7 linked regions of the Homo sapiens genome follow. The protein of the gene in region 2 purifies or fractionates together with the protein of the main gene of each other region. This does not show direct contact. Each region holds a gene or a part of one and is shown on either strand. Other genes may lie near its edges.

Evidence for each region.
Region 1: the proteins of ARRB1 (region 2) and EIF4B purify together in Homo sapiens (affinity purification with mass spectrometry; one large-scale study listed by BioGRID and IntAct). This does not show direct contact.
Region 3: the proteins of ARRB1 (region 2) and ACIN1 purify together in Homo sapiens (affinity purification with mass spectrometry; one large-scale study listed by BioGRID and IntAct). This does not show direct contact.
Region 4: the proteins of ARRB1 (region 2) and MYH1 purify together in Homo sapiens (affinity purification with mass spectrometry; one large-scale study listed by BioGRID and IntAct). This does not show direct contact.
Region 5: the proteins of ARRB1 (region 2) and GNAQ purify together in Homo sapiens (co-immunoprecipitation; one study listed by IntAct). This does not show direct contact.
Region 6: the proteins of ARRB1 (region 2) and ELMO2 purify together in Homo sapiens (affinity purification with mass spectrometry; 2 studies listed by BioGRID and IntAct, with this or other methods). This does not show direct contact.
Region 7: the proteins of ARRB1 (region 2) and RANBP9 purify together in Homo sapiens (affinity purification with mass spectrometry; one large-scale study listed by BioGRID and IntAct). This does not show direct contact.

Annotation. Positions count from the first base shown.
Region 1 is NC_000012.12:53,029,831-53,034,201, forward strand, and holds part of EIF4B (eukaryotic translation initiation factor 4B), read left to right. Parts: intron 1-3,975; coding exon 3,976-4,204; intron 4,205-4,371. UniProt on the Homo sapiens protein: Required for the binding of mRNA to ribosomes. Functions in close association with EIF4-F and EIF4-A. Binds near the 5'-terminal cap of mRNA in presence of EIF-4F and ATP.
Region 2 is NC_000011.10:75,259,444-75,262,834, forward strand, and holds the end of ARRB1 (beta-arrestin-1), read right to left. Parts: 3' UTR 679-3,391; downstream 1-678. UniProt on the Homo sapiens protein: Functions in regulating agonist-mediated G-protein coupled receptor (GPCR) signaling by mediating both receptor desensitization and resensitization processes.
Region 3 is NC_000014.9:23,063,811-23,068,181, reverse strand, and holds part of ACIN1 (apoptotic chromatin condensation inducer in the nucleus), read left to right. Parts: exon of another isoform or gene 1-822; intron 823-2,173; coding exon 2,174-2,216; intron 2,217-3,693; coding exon 3,694-3,827; intron 3,828-3,924; coding exon 3,925-4,077; intron 4,078-4,371.
Region 4 is NC_000017.11:10,508,186-10,512,556, reverse strand, and holds part of MYH1 (myosin-1), read left to right. Parts: intron 1-10; coding exon 11-149; intron 150-364; coding exon 365-483; intron 484-568; coding exon 569-718; intron 719-2,901; coding exon 2,902-3,072; intron 3,073-3,884; coding exon 3,885-4,194; intron 4,195-4,371. UniProt on the Homo sapiens protein: Required for normal hearing. It plays a role in cochlear amplification of auditory stimuli, likely through the positive regulation of prestin (SLC26A5) activity and outer hair cell (OHC) electromotility.
Region 5 is NC_000009.12:78,024,441-78,028,811, reverse strand, and holds part of GNAQ (guanine nucleotide-binding protein G(q) subunit alpha), read left to right. Parts: intron 1-4,371.
Region 6 is NC_000020.11:46,368,616-46,372,986, reverse strand, and holds part of ELMO2 (engulfment and cell motility protein 2), read left to right. Parts: intron 1-1,017; coding exon 1,018-1,181; intron 1,182-1,295; coding exon 1,296-1,408; intron 1,409-1,527; coding exon 1,528-1,635; intron 1,636-2,461; coding exon 2,462-2,544; intron 2,545-4,018; coding exon 4,019-4,096; intron 4,097-4,371. UniProt on the Homo sapiens protein: Involved in cytoskeletal rearrangements required for phagocytosis of apoptotic cells and cell motility. Acts in association with DOCK1 and CRK. Was initially proposed to be required in complex with DOCK1 to activate Rac Rho small GTPases.
Region 7 is NC_000006.12:13,620,374-13,625,082, forward strand, and holds the end of RANBP9 (ran-binding protein 9), read right to left. Parts: intron 2,120-4,709; coding exon 1,989-2,119; 3' UTR 1,125-1,988; downstream 1-1,124. Other genes in the region: U3 small nucleolar RNA-associated protein NOL7, read left to right, coding at 35-112, 381-454. UniProt on the Homo sapiens protein: May act as scaffolding protein, and as adapter protein to couple membrane receptors to intracellular signaling pathways. Acts as a mediator of cell spreading and actin cytoskeleton rearrangement.

The sequences.
Region 1 (4,371 bases), on a different chromosome or scaffold from region 2:
TTCTATTGCAGTGAGGTCTTTCCTTCTCCCTCAGAAAATGGTGAAGTCTTTACTCCTTCCTCAAAATAATAATAATAATTCAATGTTTGTTTTTTTTAAAAAAAACTTAGGCCAGCCATGGTGGCTCACATTTGTGATTCCAGCACTTTGAGAGGCCAAGGCAGGAGGATCACTTGAGTCCAGGAGTTCAAGACAAGCCCTGGCAACATAGTGAGACCCCATCTCTGCAAAAAATACAAAAGTTAGCTGAGCGTGGTAGCATGTGCCTGTAGTCCCCGTGTCTTAGGAGACTGAGGTAGGAGGGTCGCTTGAGCCTGGGAGGTCAAGGCTGCAGTTAGCCAAGGTCTCATTTCAGCTTGGGCAACATAGTGAGACCCCATCTCTGCAAAAAATATAAAAGTTAGCTGAGCGTGGTAGCATGTGCCTGTAGTCCCCGTGTCTTAGGAGACTGAGGTAGGAGGGTCGCTTGAGCCTGGGAGGTCAAGGCTGCAGTTAGCCAAGGTCTCATTTCAGCTTGGGCAACATAGTGAGACCCCATCTAAAAAATAATAAAATAGGAAATAGGTTTTAAAAAATTATATTCTTTTTTTTTTTTTTTTTTTTTTTTTGAGACGGAGTCTCTCTCTAGTTGCCCAGGCTAGAGTGCAATGGCGCGATCTCGGCTCACTGCAACCTCTGCCTCCCAGGTTCAAGTGATTCTCCTGCCTCAGCTTCCCAAGTAGCTGGGCTTGCCACCACGCCCGGCTAATTTTTGTATTTTTAGTAGAGACGGGGTTGCACCATGTTGGCCAGGATGGTCTGGATCTCTTGACCTTGTGATTCGCCCGCCTCGGCCTCCCAAAGTGCTGGGATTACAGGCGTGGGCCACTGCGCCCAGTGAAAAAACTACGTTCTTAAAAGCGATTTCCTCAAGCAAGAAGCCTAAAAATAATAGCTAACATTTATTAACCATTTACTCTGTTCCATCAGTGAGCTGAGGGCTTGTACAAGTATTGTTTAATTCTAAGACTTCTGTGTGGTATAGGTAAAATTACAAGTTAGAAAAGTGGAGGCTCAGATGTGGGCCTCATGTTCTCCTTGACTTCTGACCTTTTCCTCTCTCACACTGTCCCTTACCTCCCCACCAAGAGCTGCATACCTAATTTTTTATTTCTCTTCTTGCTCTTACCCCCCCATTCCCTCTAAGATTTGCCCTCTTGTCTCTAGTTGCTGCTGCTACCTTCGTTGAGGCCTCATTGCTGCACCCACGTTACTGGCCATTGCCTCCTAACAGAGTTCCCTTTCTTGCTCCGTTCTTCACATTGGCCCCAGTTGTCAGTTGTCTTTCTGGCATAAGATCTAATTACCTTATTCTCCTGTTTAGACCTGTCTAGTTTCCCCATGGCCTGGAACATAGCCCTTTCTCTATACCTCTGACATACACGGGCCTTCACTGTTTGCCCAGCCTTTACTTTTTTCTTCTTGAGACAGGATCTCACTCTGTCGCCCAGGCTAGAATTGCTGTGACATAATCATGGTTAACTGTAGCCTCAGCCTTCTGAGCTCAAGTGATCCTCCTTCCTCATCCTCCCCAGTAGCTGGGACTAGAGGTGCGTGCCATATGCCTGGCTAATTTTGATATTTTTTCTAAAGATGGGGTTTCTCCACATTGCCCAGGCTGGTTTTAAACTTCCAAGTTCAAGTGATCCACTTGCCCTCGGCCTACCAAAGTGCTGGGATTACAGGCGTGAGCCACTGTGCCCGGCTGCGTTCTTTTATTAATATCTTAAATGAGCTACTTTTTCTGAGCCCCTATTTTATCTTACAAAAGTGACGGGGCTATAACACAGATTTAAAATATGTTTAGGAACATATATAAACTGTCGGCTTAAAGCCCTCGTAGAAAATTTAGATCTTGTTAAACAGTACCCTCTATCTACAGGTACTATGTGCATATGTAGTAAAAGTATAAAATCAAGTGTGGGCATGATGAAGTCACCATCTAGTGGTTATTTAGAGGACAGAGTACAGCTGGTCATGTCATCAGGAGGTTTTACCTCTTTGTTAAGGTTACATTACTTAAGCCAGGTGATTGTATACATAGGCTTTCTTTATATTCTCTGTATCTTTTGTATATCCAAAATATTTAGGACAAACAATCATTTTTAGAAATTTAACTTCCTTGAAACACTTAGGTTTCTCTTGAAAGTGTTCTGACAACTTGAATTGAGGAAGAAATCAGACTGCCTGCCTTAAGAGTTTATTTGTTCAGTGTTACATGCTTTGCCCCATGAACCACCTGCCAAATTTATATTATACACAGAGACAAGGGTATAAGATCTAGAGTCTTCCTGGCTGGGCGTGGTGGCTCACATCTGTAACAGCACTTTGGGAAGCCAAGGCAAGCGGATCACTTGAGGTCGGGAGTTCAAGACCAGCCTGGCCAACATGGTGAAGCCCCATCTCTACTAAAAATACAAAAATTAGTTGGGCATGGTGCCACGTGCCTATACTCCCAGCTACTGAGGAAGCTGAGGCAGGAAAATCAGGGAGGCAGAGGTTGCAGTGAGTTGAGATCACACCACTGCCCTCCAGCCTGGGTGACAGAGCGAGACTGTCTCAAAAAAAATAAAGAACTAGAATCTTCCCTATCATATTGTATTAGTTCTTAACATGCAGATTTCGGAGCAAGATACTTTCATCCAGTAGTTTAATGATGGTCAAAAATTTCTTCCCATATAAAAGAAGTCTTGATAGATTATTAATTTATTACTTAAATGTTTACCATTTTTAGTCTTTCCTGTGGTCTTGTACTACATCATGGATGTGGTAGAAGAGTAATTGAACTTGGGTTTTTTTGTTTTTTTTTTTTTTTGAGATGGAGTTTGGCACTTGTTGCCCAGTTTGGAGTGCAGTGGTGTGTTCTCAGCTCACTGCAACCTCCGCCTCCCCGGTGGGTTCAAGCGATTCTCCTGCCTCAGTCTCCTGAGTAGCTGGGACTACAGGCATGTGCCACCACTCCTGGCTAATTTTGTATTTTTAGTAGAGATGGGGTTTCTCCATATTGGTCAGGCTGGTCTCGAACTCCTGATCTCAGGTGATCCGCCCGCCTCAGCCCCCCAAAGTGCTGGGATTACAGGCGTGAGCCATTGCGCCCGGCCAGAACTTGGTTATTTATGCCACCTATTTTTATTTTTATTTATTTTTATTTATTTATTTTAGGCGTAGTTTTGCTTTTGTTTTCCAGCCTGGAGGGCTGGAGTGCAGTGGTGCGATCCTGGCTCACCACAACCTCTGCCTCCCAGGTTCAAGCGATTCTCCTGCCTCAGCCTCCCGAGTAGCTGGGATTATAGGCATGCACCACCATGCCTGGCTAATTTTTTATTTTTACTAGAGACGGGGTTTCTCCATGTTGGTTGTGTTGGTCTCGAACTCCCGACCCCAGGTGATCCACCCGCCTCGGCCTCCCAAAGTATCGGGATTACAGACGTGAGCCACCACGCCCAGCCTGAGCTACCTATTTTCTTTTTTTTTTTTCTTTTTTTTATTTTTGAGACGGAGCCTTGCTCTGTCACCAGGCTGAAGTGCAGTAGCTCGATCTTGGCTCACTGCAACCTCTGCCTCCCAGGTTCAAGCAATTCTCTTGCCTCAGCCTCCTGAGTAGCTGGGACTACAGGTGCGCGCCCCAACGCCCAGCTAATTTTTGTATTTTTAGTAGAGACGGGGTTTCACCATGTTGTCCAGGATAGTCTCGATCTCTTGGCCTTGTGATCCACCCGCCTCGGCCTCCCAAAGTGCTGGGATTACAGGCGTGAGCCACCATGCCCAGCCTAAACTACCTGTTTTCTAATGATCTATTTGCCTTCTGTGGATTGGTTAGGCCACTAACTTGAATCTCATGTAGCATTTCATAGGAGTTATATCTGAGAAATCTGGCTTTCAGCCATCAGCTTCTGGTGATTGGAAAACTATTACTTAAAGTTTCATTTAACTTAGGTCCCCCCCAAAGACCCAAACTGAATCTAAAGCCTCGGAGTACTCCTAAGGAAGATGATTCCTCTGCTAGTACCTCCCAGTCCACTCGAGCTGCTTCTATCTTTGGAGGGGCAAAGCCTGTTGACACAGCTGCTAGAGAAAGAGAAGTAGAAGAACGGCTACAGAAGGAACAAGAGAAGTTGCAGCGTCAGCTGGATGAGCCAAAACTAGAACGACGGCCTCGGGAGAGGTGTGTTGTCTTGATGGATATCCCATCTAGGAATCCGGTGGTTCGTAATGGGGGCATTACATCCCCAGGGGCATTTGGGAAATTTGTGTCGTTATCACATTAGTGGTTGTCACTGATGGGCATTTAGTGGGCTGTGGCCAGGGGTGTTAGGCAGTATGCAGTGTTAG
Region 2 (3,391 bases):
CAACCTGGGCAACAGAGCCAGACGCTGTCTCAAAAAATAAATAAATAAATAAATAAATAAATAAATAAATAAATAATATATATATATATATTTCATATATAATTAATTTTCTAGGAAAGTCATCTTATATGCATGGGCGTCTTCCTTTTGTGTTAATACAGTACATTATCTATTAGAACATCGACTCTTCCTCACTGATATCCTTACTCCTCCCATATGTTCTGTTAGACCAGGTGGCACATAAGTCTTTGAAAACTGAAGTGACTTCAGGAAGACCCAGCAGGGCAGGAGATAAGAAGTGAACAAGAACCAGGGCTGGGGCTGGGGTGAGGACTCCCACTGATGTGGTCAGTGGTGCCAAAGATAGAAGATAGGATGGCTTCACCCCAGGAGCAAACCATGGGTCACAAAATCCTGTGGTATCTGAGAGGGATGAGAGGTATGCCAGCTTCCCAAGGCCATAAGGCTGAAAAGTGGCAGAAGAGGGACAGGAGAAAAGTTTTTGGCAGTCTCCAGAAGTTGGTACAAGGACCAGGCTGGAGCTGGGGCCACAGACAAGGGAAGAGAGCACCTCACCCAGTCATGAGCCCCATCTGCCAGTCCAGGGCAGCAGGGAGGCATTTCTTGGTCTTTGACCTGCCATGGGCTTATGAGACAGAAATGAAAGCACAGCCAGCATCCTCTGCCACAAAAGACCTTTAATGGCCTCCTATTTATTGTTCTTTTGTTCATTTGTTAGAGTTGAATGAACTATAATAACTTGTCTGACATAATAAGAATGCCACAGGTATAACAGATAAACCTGGCAGGTGGTCCAGGAATGAGAGTGTCACAAAATAATCACTCAACACAAGGGCCACAGACCTGGAGATTCTTCCCAGCCATCCCTCACTCCTGCCCCAGGACACAACCCATGCAGGCCCCCATTCCATAGGAAGAGGCAGGTCCCACAGTGTCTGTGGCTAGACCTTAACACTGAGCAGAGATGCCCGGGAAGATGGCACTTCCTATGCTCGTTCCCAAGTGCTCTGCTCATCTGCCATGCAGGTCAGGACCATACCCCGAGTTTGTGAGGCACCCACCTCTCATACTCACCACCTCATATGACCACCTATCATACCCACCTCTCCTATGACCCTTGCAATTGTCCCAGTGAGGTGGGAAGAGCCTGGACTAGCCCCATTTTGCACACAGGGAAACTAAGGACACACTCGGACCGAATGTAATACACCCGTGTCATGCGCTTGCTGTGCCCTGAGCTTCACATTTTCACCTAGAATTCCCTGGGGGGTGGGAGTGGGGGACAGGGCAGGCAGGGTTTTGTGCCAAGGGCTGGTCCAGTTCTCACTAAAGTGTCCAGGATTCCTGGGGGAATCCTGCCCTCAAAGGAGGGACTTTTGTCATAAAATCCTCCCTGAGTCTGTCTTTTATGTGAGCCAAGATTTCCATCCATCCGGCGCTGTGTAAAGATGAATTTAACCCTAGCCTCTCTCCTATCACACTGCTTCTCCTGCTGTGTCCCTTGGGCCTAGGCCAGGAAAGTGGGGTGCCAGATAGGGGTGCAGACACAAGTCCTCAGTGGGGGATTGAGCCTGTTTCCTTGCTCCAGAGCTCCCCATGCTTCATGGGCCAATATCAGGGTCACGACCCATCCCCACTGAGCACCAGGTCCCTGTCCAAATCAAACCTTGGCCAGAGCTTCAGGGTGGGTTGGCTAGAAAAACCATCAACTATGTACGTGTGTGTGTGTGTGTGTGTGTGTGTGTGTGTGTGTGTGTATAAATGCTTGTGCCTGGGTCTGTGACCCAAGTTCCAACACAAAGACACTTTGTACTGGAACGCTGGAGCCATTCCAACATGAACAGCAAGAATAGAACCTGTGCTGGCTGGTCTAAGATCAAACCTCGAGATGGTGGTTTGAAGTTCTTCTTCAAAGAAAGCTTGAAAATGAAATCTCAGTAGGCAAGACAGATAAAAGCAGAGTTATTCTGGTGGCGGCGGAAATGGGAGGAGGGCTGGAAACCTATCCTTTGCCTCCACTCCCATCTTCCCACTTTAGCATCCCCTGACAAAGCTCTGTGGAATATCAGGGGTTCCGCAGCACCTGGTTTGAAAACCACTGTGTCAGTGTCTACAAACCATAGGCCCCACGGACCTGTGCTTTGACTTCCCTTTTGGGGTGACGAGTTGGAGTGTGATGGGGGGAGGATGTTTCCCCTTCAACAGGGCGTGTCTTTGAAGCCGCTGTGCAGTGACCCTGTGGGGAAGTGGTAGAGGTGGGGTCCTGCCACTTTCGTCCAGGAGGAATGGCAGAAGAGATGGAGCTGCCTGGGCCAGGAGGAAACACCAAGCCCAGTGCAGGCCGTATAGATGAGGGTTCAGGAGTGTTTTGGTCCTTTTGAGTTTAAAAAATTATAGATATCAGAACAGGCATAGGCCTATGTCCATGAGACCCTATAAGAGTGTAAGACTGGGACCTAACCCCTTCCTCCTGGATGGGTGGAGAGCAACCAGTCCCCAGTGACAGGCAGGAGAGAAGCTGCCGCTCTGGGATGCTGACGCCACTGCATCCGCTGTGGCTCGGCTCTCAGGACAAAAGGCTTGGGTTTTTCCTGGGCCCGAAGCCCTCCCAATGTCACTGAGAAGCTGTGGTGGCTCCAGTTGCTCCTGGAAGAGGCCTTACACTTTGAAGGGAAGGAACAGACAATTTCTATTTCTCCTTGCCCTTAGATTTCTGCGGATGGGTGGTTTCAGCTCCCTGAGCCTGGGGGCTGGTGGCTCTCTTTAACCTGGGTCAGAGCCAAGGCCCCTTGGCCTCTGTGGGGTCTGAGAGATGGGAGATGTGACACCAGGCCTAGGAGGGTCCAAGATGTCCCCCTCCACCAATCACTGACAATATCCAGGTCTTCCCTCTGTGTCCTGGTTGCTGGGACCACTATTTTTGGGCATGATATTCCTGAATTGTATCTAAATTTCCCTCTCAGCTGGGTCATCAAAGCCAAATTGGCTGTATCTCATTCTGGTTGACATCTGCCTAAGTGAGAAGCAGGGCAAGCGATGAAGACTGGTGGGGAGGGCTCCTCCTGCAGCAAACTTTCTGTGTGACCTTGGGCCATCCCTGCAGTGGCAGGGCCACACACATCCAGCCATTTTCAACTTACAGAGCCCTGACCGCTGACTTTCATCTCATCTGGGCCTCATAACAATTCCTGCGTCAGGCAGGGAAGGGATTACAATCCCATTTTACAGTTAGGGAAATTGAGCCCCAGAGGTTGAGTAGCTTGCCCAAGCCCCCCAGGTGGTTGGTGACAGGCAGGACTGAGAGGCGGCATTGGGGACTTCCAGGACAGAGTTCCTTTCACTGCACCATGTAGGAACCAGCTTGTCAGGA
Region 3 (4,371 bases), on a different chromosome or scaffold from region 2:
CGACTAGGAACCGTGCAGAGGAGTCTAGGGTCTGAGCCCCTGGGGATTTAATGCTGATGACAGCCCAGCCCATGTGTCACCACTTGCTCATCAGATGGACTTTCCTTTGGTCCCTGTTGTCCATGGTGAAGGGCAGCATGTTGGTTGCTCCAACTTCTCCTCCATCCCTGGAGGCAGGGACTCATTTCATCCACCTGACTGGAACCACTGTCTCAGCTGGAGTCCCTGAGGAGATGCCAGCCACAACTCTCCGAAGAGAAGTATTCTGACCTTGCTGCTGAATGTCTGCCAGGTCCTGGGGTATTCACCTACCCCCAGGCTACCTTCATCAGAGGCTCCATGATCCCACTCGGTGAGAGGACCCCCTCCCCAGTTACAGGCAGAGGAGAAAGGGACTCTGGAGTCATCACCTGGATTCCAAGTATTGGGTGGTGTTATTGCTGCAGCTTGCCACTGGTGGACATAGGGTCCTGCCTGCCTCTCACGATAAAAGGCAAGGATCATTCCTGCTACTCACAGGCCATCTCATCAGGGACTGCAAGATGATGTCCCTTCAGGGCCAGGACTGATGTCTCTGCCCCTTTCCCCCCTCTATCCCTCGCTGAGCCTGGCCACCGCCAGTGAACTGTCTTGACATCATGGAAACTGGGCAGCGTCCCCCCACACGTTTCCCTCCCGCCCCCCCTGCGCCCCTGGGAGGACTCTGGCAGTGCCGTGCTGACTACCACGCCGTGCGCCCACCTTTTTTGCCAACCCAACCCCCCACCAATTGCACAGCGCCTAGCAGGGAGGGCTCATTCTGATTGGACCGGCGGTTGACTAGATACAGTACACAGTGAGGTGCGATTGGCTGAACTGAAGATCCCAGGTGTGAGATGGTACCTGGAACATTTGTCATATTCCTAGTTTATTTTCTTCTTTATTTTCTTCTTCTTTTTTTAATATTTTATTTTATTTTTTTCTATATCTTTATTTTTTCTGATTTCTTTTATTTATTTATTTGGTTCATGTTTTTCCTGTTTTAATTAAGACCTTTTTTTTTGTTTTGTTTTTCTCACTAACTTACCCATCGAGAGCGGCCCAGCTAGGGGTCAGGCTGGCCCTTAACAGAGACCAAGGAGACTTGGTTAGACGACACAAACGGGGCTGCGGGTGGGGGTGGATGGGAAAGGGATTTCATCACGAGGTTTCTGCCCTACCCTTTAGAAGAGTGGTAGAGTGGTCTTAGTTTTTCCAGAAATAAGCACCTACACTTGAAAATACTCTATTCCCTTTTTCTCTCTCACTTTTCTCCCCCGCCCCCCATAGTCTTTCGTCATTCACCCACTGAGTGTTTGGGGTAGAGACTTGTCCCAAAGATGTCTTCTGGTCTTTGGCAGAGCCCCTAAGGCTTGAGCCCTGGTTGGAGAGGAAACAGTAAGACTCTGCTGGAGCTCCCTGCGGTGGCTGGAAAGTCTAAGGATCTCCTTGGGGACAATCTGCCCTTCATAAAAACCTTCCTTTATCAAAGACACCTTTGAGTTCTTTTTGCTAGCACTTGGCTCAAGAGCCTCATCTCCAGTGGGTCTGGTGCTGCCCTTTTCCACAGTGTGGTGGGGGTCTGGGCAGTCTTGACATGACAGTCTGCTGTCCAAGCATCTCAAAGCCATTGTCAGTGGGCATCAGTCTGGCCATTGAAGAAAGGAGGGTTACCTTGTTGAAGTTGCCATCCAAAGTTGGTTTTCCTTGTTTCCTCGAGTTAGCAAGGAAGGACCTGGGAGGACTAGATGACCCAGTTTGGGGCACAGTTTGTTTGGCTTGGTGTCCTCTCGACTCAGACGGTGAAAGAGGGGGTATGACCAACATCTTTAGGGGGCTGAGAGGCTACTGAACTCCTCTTCCAGCTTATTTCTGGTTAAGCTAATACACAGGTGTGATACGGAGTAGATGACTTTTCCCTGCTCTGATGTTTAGTTTTATTTTTTTCTCTAACTTGCATTGATTCTGCTTCGTTTTTGCCGTTTGCCGCTTCTGTTTTGGTCTCTGTCTGTCTCTGTGTCTCTCTCTGTCTCTCTCTCTCACTCTATCTGTGTCTTTGGAGGCTAAGCTAAGACTGCCCCATCTAACCTCCTTCCCCCCTCTCTGTGGGGTGTCTCTCTTTCTCTTTTTTTTCCCCTTTTTCTTCTTCATACAGAGCTCGCTGCCCAAATCATTCAAGAGGAAGATCTCCGTTGTCTGTAAGTCCAGCCCCAAATCCCTGATAAAAGTCAGGAATACCATAAAAACCAGCATTCATTGAGAACCAGAATTTCATTCTCAATGGCATTCTTGGGTCACTCCCTCCTGCCCCACCCCTTGTGCCTAGCAAATCTGAATCCTTTCCTATGTAGGGTTTCATTTTGGAATTCAAAACTTGAGACAATCCCCATCATATTGCTCCAGTCACATTTTAATGAGATACAGTGTGAGGTGTCTGAGACCATGTCCCATTTAGCCTTAGAGGCATTTATTCTTTCAGATACCTGAATACTCAACAAGGAATGAGTTTCAGGGACTCCTATGTGATGCTTAGCAGTTTATGAATTATTCTGGGTATTTTGTTGTTGTTTTTTTGAGACGGAGTCTCCCTCTGTAGTACCCTAGGCTGGAGTGCAGTGGTGCGATTTTGGCTCACTGCAACCTCCGCCTCCGGGTCCCAGTTCAAGCAATCCTCCTCCGCCTCCTGAGTAGCTGGGATTAGAGGCATGCGCCACCATGCCCAGCTAATTTTTGTATTTTTAGTAGAGATGGGGTTTCCCCATGTTGGACAGGCTGGTCTTGAACTCCTGACCTTGTGATCCGCCTGCCTTGGCCTCCCAAAGTGTTGGGATTACAGGCGTGAGCCATCGTGCCTGACCTTGTTTATGCGTTATTCTAAGAGAGCACCCAAGGAAATGAAAGTGCCCCACACCTCAAACAGTAACAATTTTAACATTTTCCCCAATGAGGAACTCTAGATTACAAAAGTATAATAGATGTTTATAACTTAAATATCAATCTGTAGTGTGAAAATTAAAGGAAGACCAGATCCCATCATGATCTTAGTTCTGCCTAGATGTTAGTATCACATAGTGTTCTTGTTTCTTCTGCATTTACATGTCCTTCTCAGTTTTTCTTCCACACTACTTGATATTACTGTCTACCATTAAAAGTTTAAACGGCTCATCAAACTAGCTACCCCTCCCTTACTGCTTTTAGATCAGTGTTCAGTCTGAAGCCATGGTTTCCCCAGTTCCCAAATATGATTTCTTTTCTTTTTTTTTTTTTGAGACGGAGTCTTGCTCTGTCACCAGGCTGGAGTGCAGTCAGTGGCACCATCTTGGCTCACTGCAGCCTCCGCCTCCCGGGTTCAAGCAATTCTGCTTCAGCACCCTGAGTAGCTGGGATTACAGGCATGCACCACAACGCCTGGCTAATTTTTGTATTTTTAGTAGAGATGGGGTTTCACCATGTTGGTCAGGCTAGTCTCAAACTCCTGACCTCGTGATCCACCCGCCTTGGCCTCCCAAAGTGCTGGGATTACAGGTGTGAGCCACCACACTCAGCCTCCAAATATGATTTCTTTAAGTTAACCTTTTACCAAAACTCCAGCCAGAGGTAACCTGTAGGTATTACGGTTTGAACTAGCAGAGGTCCTGAGACCATCTAACTGTTGGGTCTATTTCTTGGGGACAGCAGCTACCAAGGGGGTGCCAGCTGGAAACAGTGACACAGAGGGGGGCCAGCCTGGTCGGAAACGACGCTGGGGAGCCAGCACAGCCACCACACAGAAGAAACCTTCCATCAGTATCACCACTGAATCACTAAAGGTGAGGTGGGAGGAGCCAGGGAAGGGAGGATGAGACCTGTTAAGGTGGGAGTAGACATGGGCCCAGTGTAACGGGGTGGGGGGTATCTGTGTCCCAGAGCCTCATCCCCGACATCAAACCCCTGGCGGGGCAGGAGGCTGTTGTGGATCTTCATGCTGATGACTCTCGCATCTCTGAGGATGAGACAGAGCGTAATGGCGATGATGGGACCCATGACAAGGGGCTGAAAATATGCCGGACAGTCACTCAGGTAAGGCTTCTGCACCCCAGTGTCAGGGGAAAGGTGGGAGCAGTAGATGCAGAGCAGCTAGCTGAGGAGCTGAGATAAAGTCTTTGGAGGGAACTTCCCTGTCTGTGCAGAGGGTTGGGTTGACTGACACTTTCAGGGGTCAGACTACCAAATCCAGCTGGCTACCTGTTACAAATAAAGTTTGATTGGAACACAACCACACGAGTTCATTCACTTTTGTCTGTGGCTGTTTGTTCACTACAACATCACCAGAGTTGAGTAGTTGCAACAAACTATGTGGCCTGCAAAACCTGA
Region 4 (4,371 bases), on a different chromosome or scaffold from region 2:
CTCATGGTAGAGTGCCATTGAAATTCTGGGCTTTACTTCAGATGAAAGAGTGTCCATCTATAAGCTCACAGGGGCTGTGATGCATTATGGGAACATGAAATTCAAGCAAAAGCAGCGTGAGGAGCAAGCTGAGCCAGATGGCACTGAAGGTACCAAATGAATCTCCATCTGGGTTTAATGAGAGAATATAGGCAAAAATGTCCATTCCAAAATTCAAGTCTTCTTTACAGCTGAGCTCCTGATGGACATACTCAGATGTACCCACACACAGACTTTCTACAAAGTTATTTACTCAATACTATGCCCCTTTGAACTGTGGGTCCCAGAGTAAGTCATATTAGGTATCTGAATTATGTTTCTGCAGTTGCTGACAAGGCAGCCTATCTCCAAAATCTGAACTCTGCAGATCTGCTCAAAGCCCTCTGCTACCCTAGGGTCAAGGTCGGCAATGAGTATGTCACCAAAGGTCAAACTGTGCAGCAGGTAAGTGCATGACCTCAATGAATCACACACATCCCAGGCCTTCATGACATGTCTTTAATAACACCAACAAACTTTATCTGTGAAGGTGTACAATGCAGTGGGTGCTCTGGCCAAAGCTGTCTACGATAAGATGTTCTTGTGGATGGTCACCCGCATCAACCAGCAGCTGGACACCAAGCAGCCCAGGCAGTACTTCATTGGGGTCTTGGACATTGCTGGCTTTGAGATCTTTGATGTGAGTTAGCAGAAAAATTGTACCAAAAAAGTTTCCAACAAGCAAGCTTGTTGCTGCAGTCATATAGCATGCCTGTAGTCACTTATGGAAAGGGTCTATGAAAAATAGCTGCACTTTAAACTTAACTGACACATGAAAGAGCACCAAAAGACCGTGAAAGGAAGTGAACTTTGGAATGAGACAGACCTGGATTCAAACTCCTGCTCTGCCAATTACTAGCTGTGTAATAATGAGAATTGTACCTGATTGATCATTGGGCAAATTCAACTAGGACCTGTAGGTAAAGCACTTAACATTCCAGATCACAGATTCACTTCTGAGATCTGTCTGCTAGTTTCAAGATTTCTGAATTTTCAGCCCTTAACACAGTCCCCAAGCATGCAGGCAGCACTCAGTAAACAGTAAGATACTGAGGGCAACAATAGAATCAAAGATAGCAGTGGAGAAGACAAAGTCTTTAAAAGAAAGACTTTGAGATTCTGTTTGCCGAGAAATGAAATGTGTTTAATTATTAGGATAACCTCTGCAATACCCAGGTATTGAGTATAGAAATGGCATCGTAAATAAACTCAAATTTGTCTGCCTAAGGAAGAATACCTGCTACACAGCTTAGGAAATAGGGCTACTGCAGTCCTCCACTTGACAGCAGTATCTCGGATGTGTCTCATTTAGAGGTCCCAATTCTAAACTTTTATCTGTGTACGGACTGATTGAAACTGGATGAAATTTTAGAAACGGAAGCACTTCCAGACATTTCCAAGCCAACGTGGAAAGAAAGGAATAATCTGTCATCAAGCAGGAACAGAAAAAGCAATCCACACTTTTTAAAATAAGAGAACTAATGACAGGGTACTTGCAATCATTTTGAGCTGCTTCTTTTTTTTTTTTTGAAGTAACAGCTTTATCGAGATATAATTAACATATCATACAATTCACCTATTTAAAGTATAAAATTCAATGGTTTTTAGTATATTCACAGGTACATGCTATCATCATAACAATTTCAGAACATTTTCATCATCCCAACAGGAAATTCTATTTTGTCCTCCCCCTAGGCCACAGAAACCCCTAATCTACTTTCTGTCTCTGGTTTTGGCTGTTCTGGACATGTCTTATAATGGAATCGGATAATATGTGGTCTTTGTGACTGGCTTCTGGCACTTCGCATATGCTTGCCAGATTCATCCCCCTCATAGAATTCCTTTGACTTTTGTGTATGGTGATAATGCCCTTAAACAAGGGCATCCTCAATTGTGTTTCTATGTAGGTGTCCCGAATAATAAAGCAGGGCAGGTCTACTCAAGTTCTAGGAGTAGTTACAAACACTGGCTCTGGCATCAAAATGTTGGGGTTCCTGCCATGACCCTTACTACCATGGTCTTACACAAGTTACTTAGCCTCCCTAATAGTGTTTCCTCACCCATGAAATGAGCAAATGATACCACCTACAAAGGTAGCTGTGAGGATTAAATGCAGTAACTTATACAAGGCACTCAGCATAGTGTCTACTGTAGAGTAAATGTTCACCAAATATTAGCTGTTGAATTTTTATTATTAAGGACAACATACAGACCATAATGGCTCAGATCTAGCAAATTTAGCTAGTTTACAACATAATCATAATCATTAAGAAACCTCTGACTAACAAAAACAAATACTATAAAAACCAAACAACTTTTAAAAAAAAAACTTTTAAGTTCAGGGGTCCATGTGAAGGTTTGCGACATAGGTAAGCTGTGTCGCCCACGTATGAAGCCTAGTACCCATAAGTTATTTTTTCTGATCCCCTCCCTCCTCCCACTCTCCACCCTCCAATAGGCCCCAGTGTGTGCTGTTTCCCTCTATGTGTCCATGTGTTCTCATCATTTAGCTCCCACTTATATGTGAGAACATACAGTATTTGGTTTTCTGTTCCTGCGTTAGTTTGCTAAGAATAATGGCCTCCAGCTCCAAACAACTTTTTTTTATTGCATAGGAAAGCATCATTCAGAGCTTGTTGACAGGTGTTGAAGAGACAATTTTAACAAGTATGCTAACAGCAGCAAAAACTTCATTGTGTAGGTATAGGTAGGACAAAACGATACCATCCTAAGAGGGCAATTTGGCTAACTAAAAAAACACCCCTTTCAAAGAGAAGATTTCATTATAAATTGAATGCTAATTTGTATTTTCAACTCATTTAGTTCAACAGCCTGGAGCAGCTGTGCATCAACTTCACCAATGAGAAACTGCAACAGTTTTTCAACCACCACATGTTCGTGCTGGAGCAGGAGGAGTACAAGAAGGAAGGCATTGAGTGGACGTTCATTGACTTTGGGATGGACCTGGCTGCCTGCATCGAGCTCATCGAGAAGGTTGGCTTGCTTTTTGCAGACCACAGATCATACTGCTGTACAGTATTTAAAAGAAAATCATAAAATCTTGATATAGGCAATGGCTAAATATTTCTACTTGTGAAAAACATGAGGAGAATTCCTTATTTTGCCAACTCTGAAGTAGATATTCTGGTAAAAGGAGATTAAATATTTTCTATAGAGTCCAGAACACAACACTTACCCACAGTTTGCAATACAAAGTCTTACATTTAAAGTCATCTTTCCTTACAAAAAGTGCACTGACTAGAATATTTTTTACTTACTGTTTTTTGTCATCCTAAAGTCATTATTACTGCATTCAAAGTATGAATTTCTACTACTGTACGTTAAAGCAGAGGCTTTTAAAATCCAGTGTGCGAAAGACCCACCAAGAATACTTGGTACAATTGCAGGTTTCCCTTGTCTCACCCCTAGAAATATTTTCTGGTAAGTGTAGGATGAAACATCGGAATCCTCATTTTGAGCAAGTGATTCTGATGCAGCTAATTCGCAAGTCACACTTGGAGAAATATTGCTCTCAGGTCTTTGGGGTAAAGACACAAACTCCACAGGAGCACAGCCTTCATCTGTCTTACTCTGTCATATCCCAGAGCCTGATACAGCACGTGGCTCCTGATCAGCACCCAATAAATATTTGTGAAGTTAATGACTTCTGACCAAAGGAACGAGTTTTCGTTAACTCTGTAGAATTAAAGGATGAATTTACTCAGATGGGATAATTATTAATGTTAAATGTTATTTCTATAAGCAGACAGAATTCAAGTGGCATTTATTTCTTTTCATTCTTCCAGCCTATGGGCATCTTCTCCATCCTGGAAGAGGAGTGCATGTTCCCCAAGGCGACAGACACCTCCTTCAAGAACAAGCTGTATGAACAACATCTTGGAAAATCCAATAACTTCCAGAAGCCCAAGCCTGCCAAAGGCAAGCCTGAGGCCCACTTCTCTTTGATTCACTATGCTGGCACCGTGGACTACAACATTGCCGGCTGGCTTGACAAGAACAAGGACCCCCTGAATGAGACTGTGGTGGGGCTGTACCAGAAGTCTGCAATGAAGACTCTGGCTCTCCTCTTTGTTGGGGCAACGGGAGCGGAAGCAGGTAATTATCAATATAATTAATCTTTTACCTAATGTATAAAACATAACTAGAGGCCAGACACGGTGCCTGTAATCCCAGCATTTTGGGAGGCCAAGGTGGGTAGATTGCCTGAGGTCAGGAGTTCAAGACCAGCCCGGTCAACATAGCAAAACCCCGTCTCTACTAAAAATGCAAAAA
Region 5 (4,371 bases), on a different chromosome or scaffold from region 2:
GAATCCAGGACGGTTGATTTCAACAAGGAAGATATTAGGGAGGGATTTCATTTGAGGAATTCCTGATTCGCTGCTTTGATGAGTACACTGAATGTTCTGGTTCCTTCTATCATTTAAACAAACCTATCTAGAGGAGATTATAAGATGTATCCATTCACAGTTTAAAGATCTACTAATATTTTTAACTAGTTTATGGAGGAATAAGTATTTTGAAATGAAAATCAATGTAAAATTGTTTTCAAAGTAAATTTTAGTTCAAGGCTTGATACCATTTTAATGGAAGAGGATTTGTTTGACAGGGATAAAAGTGGGTACCCTTGCATTTGCTCATGTAATTATTTACTTTTGTGTATTAATAATATGGAGACATTTAAAAAGACAATTAGTGGGTACCTGACTAGATGAAAGTATGGCAGTAAAATTTGGGCTATGTTGATTTATATTCGGCAACTATGCCAGTCTTCCAAATTTATTCCGTATGCTTATATATTATATATTTTTATTTTAACTTTAGAAACGTGAACCCTGAAATCTACCACTATAAGAATATTACATTAAATTTTGAATTATTTTCTTGTTGTCTTTTAACTTATTCATTCTTTGAATTCATTTATGTTAGTGTTTGACACTCAAAACTTACTCTTTGTATTCTATGTAGATATACAAGAGCATACTTCATTTTAACTTGGTTAATGTTTTTATATATTTTGTAGGTATAAAGCACATATTTTCTTTAATTGATTAATTTTCATGAATATTCACTAAATATTTCTGTTGGTGGTACATAGATAACCTCATTTAATATAATTTGTAAGTCTGTGTAATACAAGTGGCCTTGAGTGCCTGCTTCATGTTACATATAGTTATCCTGAAATTTTTTTCAGTTCCTAGAAGAAACATTTTTTTCCTGTTAACCTGTTCTTATTTTACACGTTTTTGAAGTCTTTTACTCTTTAGATCTTAATTATCAAATAGGAAGACTTAGTAAACCCCTTTAATTGATTGAATTATCGCTATTGAAACAGGCAAAGTTTAGGCCAGTCTTTTTTTTTTTTTTTTTGAGATGGAGTTTTGCTCTTGTTGCCCAAGCTGGAGTGCAATGGCGCGACCTCACTTCACTGCAACCTCCGCCTCCCAGGTACAAGCGATTCTCCTGTCTCAGCCTCCCAGGTAGCTTGGATTACAGGCATGCACCACCACGCCCGGCTATTTTTTTTGCATTTAGTAGAGCTGGGGTTTCAACATGTTAGTCAGGCTGGTCGCGACAGGCCAGTCTTAAATGGAAGACCTTAAATGGTCTTGGTCTTCTGAAATGAATTTTATATATGAGCACAGATTTTCTTCCTGTTGTACACTGCAAACATATGAGAGTAGAGGTTGTGTCTGTTTTGCTCACTATTAAATCCCAGCTTCAAGCACAGTATCTAACTCGTAGAATGCTCTCAATAAATATTGGCTGAGTAAATGAATTTATTTATTACCCTCCTGCTGGAAATTAGACCAGACAATAATGAATAAATGTATAGAAACATAGGAATATATAATGTTTTTATCTGTGGCAGATAAAATCAGGATCTTAAAAAAATTGTGTGTAACTCTTTGAGCCAACTGATTATAAATGCATTCCAGGATAGGAAGTGTTAATGTAAGATGTTGCATCACACATTGAACCAGTGTATTACAGTTCTGTACTGGATGTATTTGAGAATGGTAACAGTCATGCTTAAAGTATGAAAGTTTAAAGAAAAGAAAAACCATTCTATATTTTTATTACTTTTTATTGTGTAGAGGCTAGTTTAACCCTCTCATCTTTTTACCATACATTTTTCTCCATGGTACAGGGCTCAGTGAATTTTTAATACTCTGTAGAGCACAGGTGATGACTAAATGGGTGTTTGTGATTGACTTATACAATAACGTGAGGAAAACCACCATAATTAAATACAGAATTTCAGGAATTGCAGTTAGAACATTTTTAATATGAAGGATATGCATTTGTACTGAAAGCTATACAGTTTTAGACCAAGAAGGGGCTTGGAAGGCTGGAAGTGCTGTAGCCAATTTAAGCTGTATGGGAAGTTAATTTCTACACATCTGGAAAAGAGCACGCTTCCCACTGCTCCTCAGTAGGGTTCACTGGAGTGGGTATGTTGATTGCCTGAATTAACCTAGAGGTCAGTGCCATCTAGGATGGTGACTCAGAACCATTGAGTGAAAGCCTTGGTCTAAGTAACCTCAATAACAGCAGCTCCCTAAAAATAGCAAAATATGGTGTTTATGAGACTGCTTTAAGGACCAACAGGTTTTATTTTTTGCTACTCTTTTAGCTTCCAAGTGTTGAATATGTTTCTGAATGTCAGGATTTATTTGGATACAGTTCCCTTTTTTGTTGTTGTTGAAACAAAGTACTTATAGTTTATATCAGAAGAACAAAGTGGGAACATCCCTCATAAAAATCAAAACTGTGGCTCTGACTGTATAACAAAGCCTTCGGAATAAGTTTTTTGCATTGAACTACGTAGATTCATCGTCTGGATCTCCATATAATGTCCCATCCTTACCCCTATATGCTATTTCTTCATATGGCAAATCTGACACAAATTAAAACCCTGCTGAACAGTGAAAATATTGCAGGTTTATCTATTCACATATTCTAAAGTAAGTTTAGAAAGGAGAACCAGAAGACTAATTTAGTAGCCATTTTAATATAAATAAATTTGATAGAATCTTTTTCATTAAAAAAGAAAACCATCTCAGCTCTACTTTAGGAGAAATGGCTTATGTTCAGTTTTCAGAAGTGCCTATTAAAAACAGTTACGATTTTTATTACCCATGAATTTTTTAGGACCTGAAACAGCCTTTGCAGTTGTGAGGCTGCGTGCTATGCTAAACTTAGCAGAAAAAAGGAACAGATTTTTCTTTATGATCCAGGCACACTTACACTTGAAAAGAAATTAACAAGATTCTCTAAGGAAGGTTTTGATTCCAGCATTCATATTAATTTTTCTTTAAGGGGAGTTATTCTACTAATATTCTGTTAATATTAGTAGAAATGTTGATTGGATGTTGTAGAGGGAAAATAGGGAGCTCAAAGGGTACATCTTGGAAGAGACAGAAGCCATTTTATAAGGAGGTTAGGATTGCTTTCTCCCTCAGAAGGTGGAGGGAATCTGTTTCCTCTGTATTGGGTTGAGGAAAATACAAGTTTGTGAAGCAACAAATTTTAAAGTCAAATTTCCTGGTTGGAACGGGAGGCAGTCACATTTTTCAAAGGAAAACTTTTGTAATGCCTTTTAAGTTATGTTAAGATCTCTGCAGACTTAATCCTAGTGAAGTGTGAAATAGCAATAGAAGGTAAAATGTGCGATTGTTGGTAATTAAATCTGTGGCAATAACTGACTACAGTAAACCGTGAACGTTTACTCTTGTTCTGCCGAATGGAGTAACATTAAAGAAAGAGCTGCTCTCAGACCCAAACACTATTTTGTGTGAATAGCTGTTACTGATAAAATTATAGGAAGTTGTTCAACAATCACCTTTGATTTGTTACATTACCGATATGTAAAAAATAAAATTATAGGAAGTTGTTCAACAATCACCTTTGATTTGTTACATTACCGATATGTAAAAATCTGTCTGATTTCTCATCTAACATGTAGTAAAAGGACCTAGGCATACTGATGAAATGAGTTAACACATCCTAGGTGGTCATGAATTTGGGCTTTAAAAACAAAAATAAATGTCCATGTTGCAGTGCCGAGAATCCCAAATTGGATTAACTATACAGCTCTGTTGTTAACCTTTATACATAGCCATAATCAGTGCAGAATATTTTGTTAAAAGCCTTTATGGTTAATTTTAAAGAACAAAATTAGTATTACTTAAAAATCAAATTATGAAGATATCTCAAATCCATTTTTTCAACATATACTTGTCAGTTATTAAAAAATATTTCCTCTAATTTTTTTTTTTAACCAGGCATAACTTAAGAAGGAACAGTTTCATGCAGAATGCTAGTCAAATGAACAAATATGAGCACCTACTATGTGCCAAATAATGTGCTGTGTGAGATGCTCCTTATGTCTTATTTGCCGACAGGAAAGACTAAGCACTTTGCATAGTTCTTGTATTGTAGCTGATGTCCTCGTACTGACATGCCCTTCTGACTTTATCCTTCCTGGCTTTGGCTTTTCTATTGGGTTTTCATACACAGAAAGAGACAAAATAATCTGAAGGCCATTGTAGGAGCTTCCTGGGGATCACAGGACTGGGGAATGCGGATGATTTTACCTTGTGTTTCTAAGTGGATTGGAAGCTCCGTGAAGGCAAAGATCCTTGCTCTTGTATCTTTATCGCAATTCCTGATGATTC
Region 6 (4,371 bases), on a different chromosome or scaffold from region 2:
CTCGGTGCTTTCAGTCCTCACTCTATGCAGAGCACTGTTGTGCCAGGCCCTCAAAAGCTGATCATCTAGGGGTCGAGTGTTTTGAAGTTGATCATCTCATCATAAAAAATTTGGAAAGTATAAAGAATAAAAAGTTACCTGTATTTACACCATCCAGTGACAAACATTTTTGTTTTCCTCTAGTCTTTTTTATCCCCTACAGGTTTTTCCTTCATTAGCAAGATCATACTGCGCATGCAGTGTGGTATCCTGTTGTTTTCTTTAATAGTTGTTTTAAGGGGACCAATGCATTTTTTTAAAACACCACAGCGTGCCAGAACTGCGCTTGCCTTTCTATTCTTTTGTTTGTTTTTTTGAGACAGAGTTTCACTCTTGTCACCCAGGCTGGAGTGCAGTGGCACTGTCTCGGCTCACTGCAACCTCCACCTCCGAGGTTGAAGTGATCCTTCTACTTCAGCCTCCTGAGTAGCTGGGACTACAGGCGTGAGCCACCACACCTGGCTAATTTTTGTATTTTTAGTAGAGACGGGGTTTCACCATGTTGGCCAGGCTGGTCTCAAACTCCTGACCTCAGGTGATCCGCCTGCCTCAGCCTCCCAAAGCATGAGCTACTGCAACCGGCTGGTATCTCATATTCTTTATGGCAACACCTATCAGGAGATGTGTCTTCCTTTCTCTCGGTTTAGAGATGAGTAGATGCACACCTAAGGATGTTAAGTGACTTGCTGAAGGGACAGAGTCAAGATGTGAACCCATTTCTTTCTGACTACAAAAATCCATGCTCATTTCCCCCACACCATTGACCAATTGAAATATATGGGAAATAAAGCATCTATCAGTGTCAGTCATGTGACCTGAATAACCATCTAAGAAGGTATACCTTACTCACCCAGCAGATGTCTGTAGTGCCTGCCCTGCTCAAGACCCTGGGGCAGGAAAGAGCCTTGGTGCTCCATAATAGGCCTGTCCATTTCTCAAGAGTAGTGGTGTGAGTTGGCTGGGTTCTTCTCCTCTTAGGTTATGCAAGTCGTCCGAGAGCAAATCACTCGAGCTTTGCCCTCCAAACCCAACTCTTTGGATCAGTTCAAGAGCAAATTGCGTAGCCTGAGTTACTCTGAGATTCTACGACTGCGCCAGTCTGAGAGGATGAGTCAGGATGACTTCCAGTCCCCGCCAATTGTGTAAGTTCCATCTCAGGGGAGGCTGGCGGGGGAGGTGGCTGCCAGCTCTGCTTTCCTTCCAGAGCTCCACTGTCCCCATGACCTTCCGCTCACTCCAGTGTGTGTCCACCCCAGGGAGCTGAGGGAGAAGATCCAGCCCGAGATCCTTGAGCTGATCAAGCAGCAGCGCCTGAACCGGCTCTGTGAGGGCAGCAGCTTCCGAAAGATTGGGAACCGCCGAAGGCAAGGTGAGAGGAGACGGGGCAATCCTTGGTGCCGGGAAGAGCCTGCCTGGATGGCCCCTTTTGTGCCCAGGCCTTTCCCAGTACTGTCGTTGCTCACCTGTTTGGCTTCCCTTGTGTTCCAGAACGGTTCTGGTACTGCCGGTTGGCACTGAACCACAAGGTCCTTCACTATGGTGACTTGGATGACAACCCACAAGGGGAGGTGACATTTGAATCCCTGCAGGAGAAAAGTAGGTTCATTTCTCTGTTGATGTGTCATGGTTGCTGGACTTGTCAGGAGACAGGAGTTCTAGTCCAGCTGTTTGTAGCTGATCATCTGGGCTTGTACCTGTTACCTCTCTGGACCTGTTTCCTTATCTGTCAGCGATTTCCTCTACCTGGCCTACTCGGTGGGGTGGTTTGGAGAAACAATGAGTTCACAGGTGTGAATGTATTGTGTAGACTGTAAAGGGTGGTACATGACTAAGTCGAAAGGCAGTAGTTAAGAGGAGAAGCTGTGAAGCCAGACTGCCCACATTCAAATCCTGGCTTTGCTCCTAATTAACTTGAATTCTAATTAATTGCAAGTTCTCCCCTCTGCCTTGGTTTCTTCTCCTGTAAAGTGGGAATAATAGCCACACTTTCCTCCTAAGAGGATTGCATGAGTAATGTATGCAAAGCACTTAGAAGAGTGGTTGGCAGGTAGTCAGCATAACTGTTAGCAGCTGCCACTGCTGTTGGCGATGATGGCATCATCATCGCCATTATTGTGAAGGAGAGGGGAAGGGAGTCACCAAGGTCCCGTTCCTTGGGGATATAAATCCAAGAGCCCTGAAGTGACCCTCAGTTAGCTTTGACACAGCCTCACTGGGCTGTGGTCTACAGGAGTGACCAAGACGGAGGGAACAGTACAAGGCCATCCTCCCCACCACCCTCACTGAGCTCATACAGCAGCCCTTGGAGTTTGGGGCTGAGGCTTCCTATGCATCTGCCCCAGTACCTCCCTTCCAGCACTGATGTAGGCACTGACCAGCTTGCAGCATGAACTTCCAGAGACTAATTCCCATCATTTATCAGTTCCTGTTGCAGACATTAAGGCCATTGTCACTGGGAAAGATTGTCCCCACATGAAAGAGAAAAGTGCTCTGAAACAGAACAAGGTGAGTAGAGAGGCCAGTTTGAGTAGCTGGCCCAGTGATACTTGGAGAGTGCCATTGGTGGTGGTTTTTTCCAGGTGCATTCTTGGCATCTTCCCCTCTCTATTCCTGAATGTTTTATTAAGAATTTTGAACATACACAAAAATAGATGGAACCTCTGTATACACATCACCCAGACTCAGCAACCATGGCCAGTTCTGCCCATCCACTTGTTTCTCTCCTTTATCGCTTTGAAGAAAGTCCCAAGTATCACACTGTTTCATCTGTAAATATTTAGTGTACATCGTATAGTGTATAACATTGCCACCAGTCCATTAGCACACATAACAGGAAATGAAAGTAGTTATTTCAGATCAAATATTCCACTGATGGTGACTTTCTACCAATTGTCTTATAAATGTCATAATTTCTCTACAGATATATAAATGTTTATATGGATACACACACACACACACACACACACACACACACACACACACACACCCCCATACCCATCTTGTCTAAACCAGAGTCTAAGACTGGTCTTTTAAGTTTCTTAATTCATAAGTTCCCCCGCCCCCCCATCCCCCACCATCTTTTCCTTTGCAGTTTATTAGCTGAAGAACCAGATTGCTTGTTTGGTAGTTTCCTAGCATCTGAATTTTGCTGATTGTTTCCCCGTGGTACAGTTTAACTTGTTCCTCTGTCCCAGATCTGTACATTGGAAGAGGGATCTAGAGGTTTGATCCAGTTCAGGTTTAACTTTTTTCCTGGCCAGTGTCATCAGTGGTATTATGTTCTATCAAGAGGCACATAACGTCTGGTGGTCTCTCCTTTTGTGATAATTAGCAGACTGTTGAAGCTCAGTGCCTCATTCCATCAGTCAACTAAGGTTTGCAAACTCATGATATTTTGATGCAGTCATTGCTTTTCATTTATGAGCTGAACCATGAAACTTGCCCTTATCTACTATTGGTTTCCCAGTGGTACAGTTTATATAGGAAACGAGAATAAATGCTGATTCTTCTTTTATGTACTTACTTTCAAAATAATGAGTTAGTTCCTTGGTATCATGCAACAGTGACCAATTTTGTGTGTGTGTGTGTTTTGTTTTGTTTTTTAATTGTTAAGACATTCCTATGCCAAATACAGCACGATAGAAGTTGTTAGTCATCTTGGTAATATAAAAACTTTTAGGATAACTTACAGTCATGGATCGTGACCTTCCAGGGTTCTGAGTGTTGAAAATGACTTTTTTCCAATCTTAAAAATATCACAACATCTTTGATGTGACTTGGGCAGGGAGTGGGTAAGTTAAGGTTGATTTATGCTGGGCCTCATCTCCAGCCACACTTGTGGCCGCCTAGGAGCATTGATGACATTCATCTGAATCAGCATGTTTGGTGATGATGCCGAGTCACTAGGACTTTGGCCAAGATCTTGATGTGCAGACCCCAGGCTGTTCCATCGCTCTAATTTAAACCCTTTCTCCTTCAGGAGGTGTTGGAATTGGCCTTCTCCATCCTGTATGACCCTGATGAGACCTTAAACTTCATCGCACCTAATAAATATGAGGTGAGCAGTGTGGCGCTGCCTTAGACAACAGAGCTATTTCTGTAACTCTTCAGTTGGTGGCAGGAATGAGCAAAACAGGAAAGTCCCCTGTGGTGGGTGGCTGCAGTGTATATTGAAGCCTAGGAAGGCTTTGAGAAGAAGGTGGCATTTCAATAGGATGGGAATGTCTCAAAGGAGGAGCTGTGGTTGGGGGGGCACCCAGATGAAGCAGCAGGTATCATTACATAATGCTGGACCTGAGGTTCCTCCAGGCGCATTGGGTGGCTGCCAAGGAT
Region 7 (4,709 bases), on a different chromosome or scaffold from region 2:
AAACTGTGAAATGATAAATACCTTTCTTTTCTAGTAAATAAGTTCCTGTCTCTTGCCAACAAGAGGTTACCAGTGAAAAGAGCTGCTGTCCAGTTTTTGAATAATGCTTGGGGTAAGATCCAGCTTTATTCTCCTGTCTCTAATAGCTTTATATGTTGAATAATGTTCTTTTGAAGGAGATAGTTCATAATTATACTTTTCCCCCTTATAATGGCTTATATATTAAGTTACTTGTGAAAAACAGGTCAATGTAGTATGTATATACATCTAAAGTATAATAAGCCCACCCAGTTTTAGTAATTACATTCATATAGAGTAATTAAAAAAATTTTGAATTATGTTTTTCTAATATACTTACTGCAGAAAACTTTATATTCTAGGAATCCAAAAAAAACAAAATGCCAAGAGGTTTAAAAGACGGTGGATGGTCAGAAAGATGAAAACTAAGAAGTAAATCAATGCTAAATGAAGAATCTGTACTTTGTATGTATAGAATTTATCTAATAAATCATTCATAGATCATTTTAAAGGATCATTATAAAAATCATAAACCTATTTGAGGAAGTGCTCAACCACATTTCATTCTTCTGGAGTAGAACTGTGCCTTGCAATCCTAGAGGAAAAAGTGGTTTAAGAAGGAATTGTTTTCTTTTTAATATATTTAACTGAATTCAAGCCATACCCACATCAGCAACAGCACCTCTTCTACTCTCCCCGGGTTAGAGGGGTGGCAAAAATGGCACGGACTAAAAGGAGAAATGGATATTCCAGCAAAGTCTCTAACTGCAGCCTGTAGACAATTTGCTATTAAAGATTCAGTGCACAAAATATAGCTAACAGCTTTTAAATTTTTACTTTTAACCAGTCTGGGGATTTGCTTGCCTGGTGAGTCTCATATGCCATATTATGAATATGAAAATAATGAAGTTAATTTCCTGTTGCCTTTCTGTGTCAGCCACAATATCAGGTCTAACCCTAATCCAGGGATGCCAGTAAACTGAAGGCAATTTTAGGTTGTAGAACTCAGATTAATTGTAGAAACCATTAATTTTAATTGCTCTAATTTTCATAGTAATCATAAAAAGTATGCAAGTACCTAATATATAAACTCAATTGACACTGTATCTGTAGAAGTAAATTTTTAATGGCTGGTTAATTATATCACTACATTTTATTGCAATATAGTACTCATTTAAGCACTTAAAAATGGAAGGTGTACAAAGATTAAATTAAGACACGGTAAATTGACTAAATATTTGGTTTTTATATAAATAAAGGTCATAACCACACCGTTGACATGTAATACTGTTATAATACAACAGTTAAACTTGTGAGTCTACAACAGAAGTCATCTGTAGTTAAACAGGAAACAAAGTTGAAAAAGACCATGTTAAAACAAAACTACTGGGACTAACAGGTCGGGATTGTAAGTAGCAACAAACATATTCACTCAGCTCCTGAGTATTTCAAGTTTTACAGTACACATTAAAAATGATTTCTTCCATCAACACTATAAATTCAAACTGTCGGATGTTTATGCATTTTGCAAGTTACACTGATTGAATGCTTATATGGGAGTGGGGGTCGGAACATCTCCCAATTTGAAGTTTACATCACCCACATGCTAACACAAACACAACTTGTTCCATTTCCTTCCCCTCTCTCCCCCCTCCCCCACAAAGAAGGCAGGATTTTTGGTTTCTTTTAGGTAATTGTTTTAAAGGATTTGTGATGATCAATTTGAACGTCTGAAATTCAGTAATATTTAACTCTTAGACAACTAAGAGGTTAAAGATGGAAAATAATTTCTCCTAACACTAAGTTAGAAAATCATTTGCATCATGCTGTAAACTAGGAAGCAATGTAAAGCGACAAAAACCTGTCCCCAGTACATAATTTAAAAAATCTAAATTTCAAATCAGCAGAGCTGGTCTACTTCCATGTTGACTATATGCCACAATATAAGTGTGAGCTCTTGAAATGCATAGCTAATGTAGGTAGTCTTCCACTGTGGCAAATGCGCAGGATCCAATTCCTGATCGAGCCATCAGTCCTAGACATTGTGTGGCCTGTCCCATTGCTAGGGCAAGTGGAGGTTGCTTTGGCAGATTGTGGGTTTCTGAGGAAAAATAATTTAAAAATGAGAACAGCAATTAGCAAGACATTTTAAAAAACATTTCAATCAGGAGAATACTGCAATGACTTTAAAAACTACCACTCCCATACCACTCTGAAATATCAGCAAATGAAGGTTTCTAAGCAAAAGACAGATGCCGCCTTGGACATACTATTCTGACAAGGTAGTGTGGGTATTGTGTATTCAACTATAAGATAAACTCTGGCAGAATCAGACTTTTAAAGTATCAGATACTAAAATACTTCCATATTAACTATGATGGGAAAGGTACAATTTTTTATCTGATATTTGGAGTGGAGAGTAAGGAATTATTTCCCTTCTGGTTGATCAAAGTCAGTTGATACTAACTAAAACTAAAAAAGGCACCAGGTTTTCATTACAAGTTTCCACTGATGGGTTCTTCCACCTCTGTGGATAGGACCAAACAGGCTGCCTAGCCATCTCCAAGGCATATATAGGTAATGTTATTTGGGCTGGTGGGGAGTAAGTGGTGGTGGTGACAGTGAGAGAACATACAGCAGAGCCACCCCACAGTTTTGGAGGTGCTAATTTACAGTGGACAGTTCAGACATTTAAAAAAATGCCAATAAATTTTCAGGGTCCTGCATATCATAAGTTTCTTTGTCAGACATTTGTAGTACAAATGCAATAATTAACAAAATTTGTTCCTTGCCAGAGATGGAAAAAAATGAACTAATGGTAAAAGTGGCCAGACTCAGAAGCTGGTAATTTCTCTTTATGAGAAGGCAATGTCCAAACTAATCAATAAAATTACTAATCAGTTCTTTATAGGCACAGTTGACAACAAAGGGCAAAAACAGTTGACACATGGCTAGGAAGGCTTCATATGGTTTAACTCCACTCTTGGTTCAGAGGATGCAATTTGATGGTGGAAGAAAGAAGAGGAAATTTCCAAAAGGGAAAAAGCACAATATCAGAAAGAAGCAAATTCAGGACTTAAAGGTAGAAGAGAAAACAAAAACAGGATTAAGAATAAACGTGTGCAAAAAAGGGCACATAGATTGATGAGAAAGTGTGGTGTCTTGAGGGTTCACAGGGAAGACCGTGCTCAAAGACAAACATCTACAGGGAATATTTTTTTAATTTTATTTTGGCCAAAGGAAGCATCTGGCGATGCATCTTTAACTTTTTTGGATGTATGAAATTTTCATAACACTATATAGATGGACCTACATAATATAGCATGGTATTTATAAACATATACATGCCCATCTATAGCAGTTTAATAATTGTGTCATTAATTTTACAGGAATCGCATACATTTATATTAATAAGATTAAGCACTATTTATGGCTGAATCTACATAATATAGCACAATATGTAAGAGTATATGTGTCTATAGATAATGGTGCTCAACAATTAAATTCCCTTGAAGAACTCAAGAAACTAAATTGTAAGAAAACTGGTCACTTTAAAGATTAGTATCATCTAATAATTAGGTCTTAATGATTACCTACAATATAACTTCAAAAAGACATTTATAGTAAACCATAATTTTCCTTACAATTCCAGCATTATTACTAAGTTACTTTTACCAACGGAGCTAAATGAATTTTGTAGAACCAATGAAAATATAACACATTAACCAAAGAAAATTCACATTTATATACAAATCCTAAATTCCGGAGAACTACAACACTGAGGACACTACTCCTATTCCCAAACTTCAGTATTGGTCCTTAACAAATTAATAAATTTTCTAAGGGCAAAGAAACAGACTGAGTCTTAAATATGAATGCTTTTCATTGCTTCCTTTACATTCTTGCTGTAAGAGTCCTGGCCCTCATTGCAAGTCTCCCTATCTAAACTACTCTTTAATCTACTTTTTGTGGCACTGCCCTCATCTTCCTAAACTAGTTTGAAATATGTGACTAAAAGTCCCTGAACCTTGCAGGGCCAAACAGCACAGCACAGACTTCTAAACTAGACTGGAGTCCCAATTACCTGGGAATTAGACTCTGAAGTCAAATGAAAACTCACTCTTTATATAAATTACCTTTGATGAGAACTGCCCAAAACTCAAACTTGTTTTATGTAAACAATCGACCCTATCACATTTATATAGAAATGCACAATATGTGCAGTTACACAATTCATATAAAAAGTACTTGTTCAGTATATAAATACTATAATCACAAACGCTACAGTGAGCTGCTCATAGGAATGGCAACCAAACGAACATCGAATTAGCGTTTCGCACTTGATGCTCACCCCTGGCTAAGCCTCGCCTTTTAAATTGCTTTTCTCTTCCTCACCCACCCTTTTTATTGGGTAAGGGCATGTAGTTGAATCCGGCTAATATAAATGCAAATAGAATGTGACATCAAGGCTTGATCCTGCCGGGTACTCACAAGTCATCAGGAAGCCCCTTGTGCCCATATTCATAAGCATGGTGGGAGCTGTGATACCAGTGGCTTAGGCTGCTGCTACCCATTGCAAATTTAGCTCAAGCAAAATGGTTGGGAACCAGGTAACAGGGGAGGACCAGCTAGGAATCCTGCCCTCTACTGGATCAGTTTGAGCTTCTCTGATATTCAAGCTCTTCACTCCC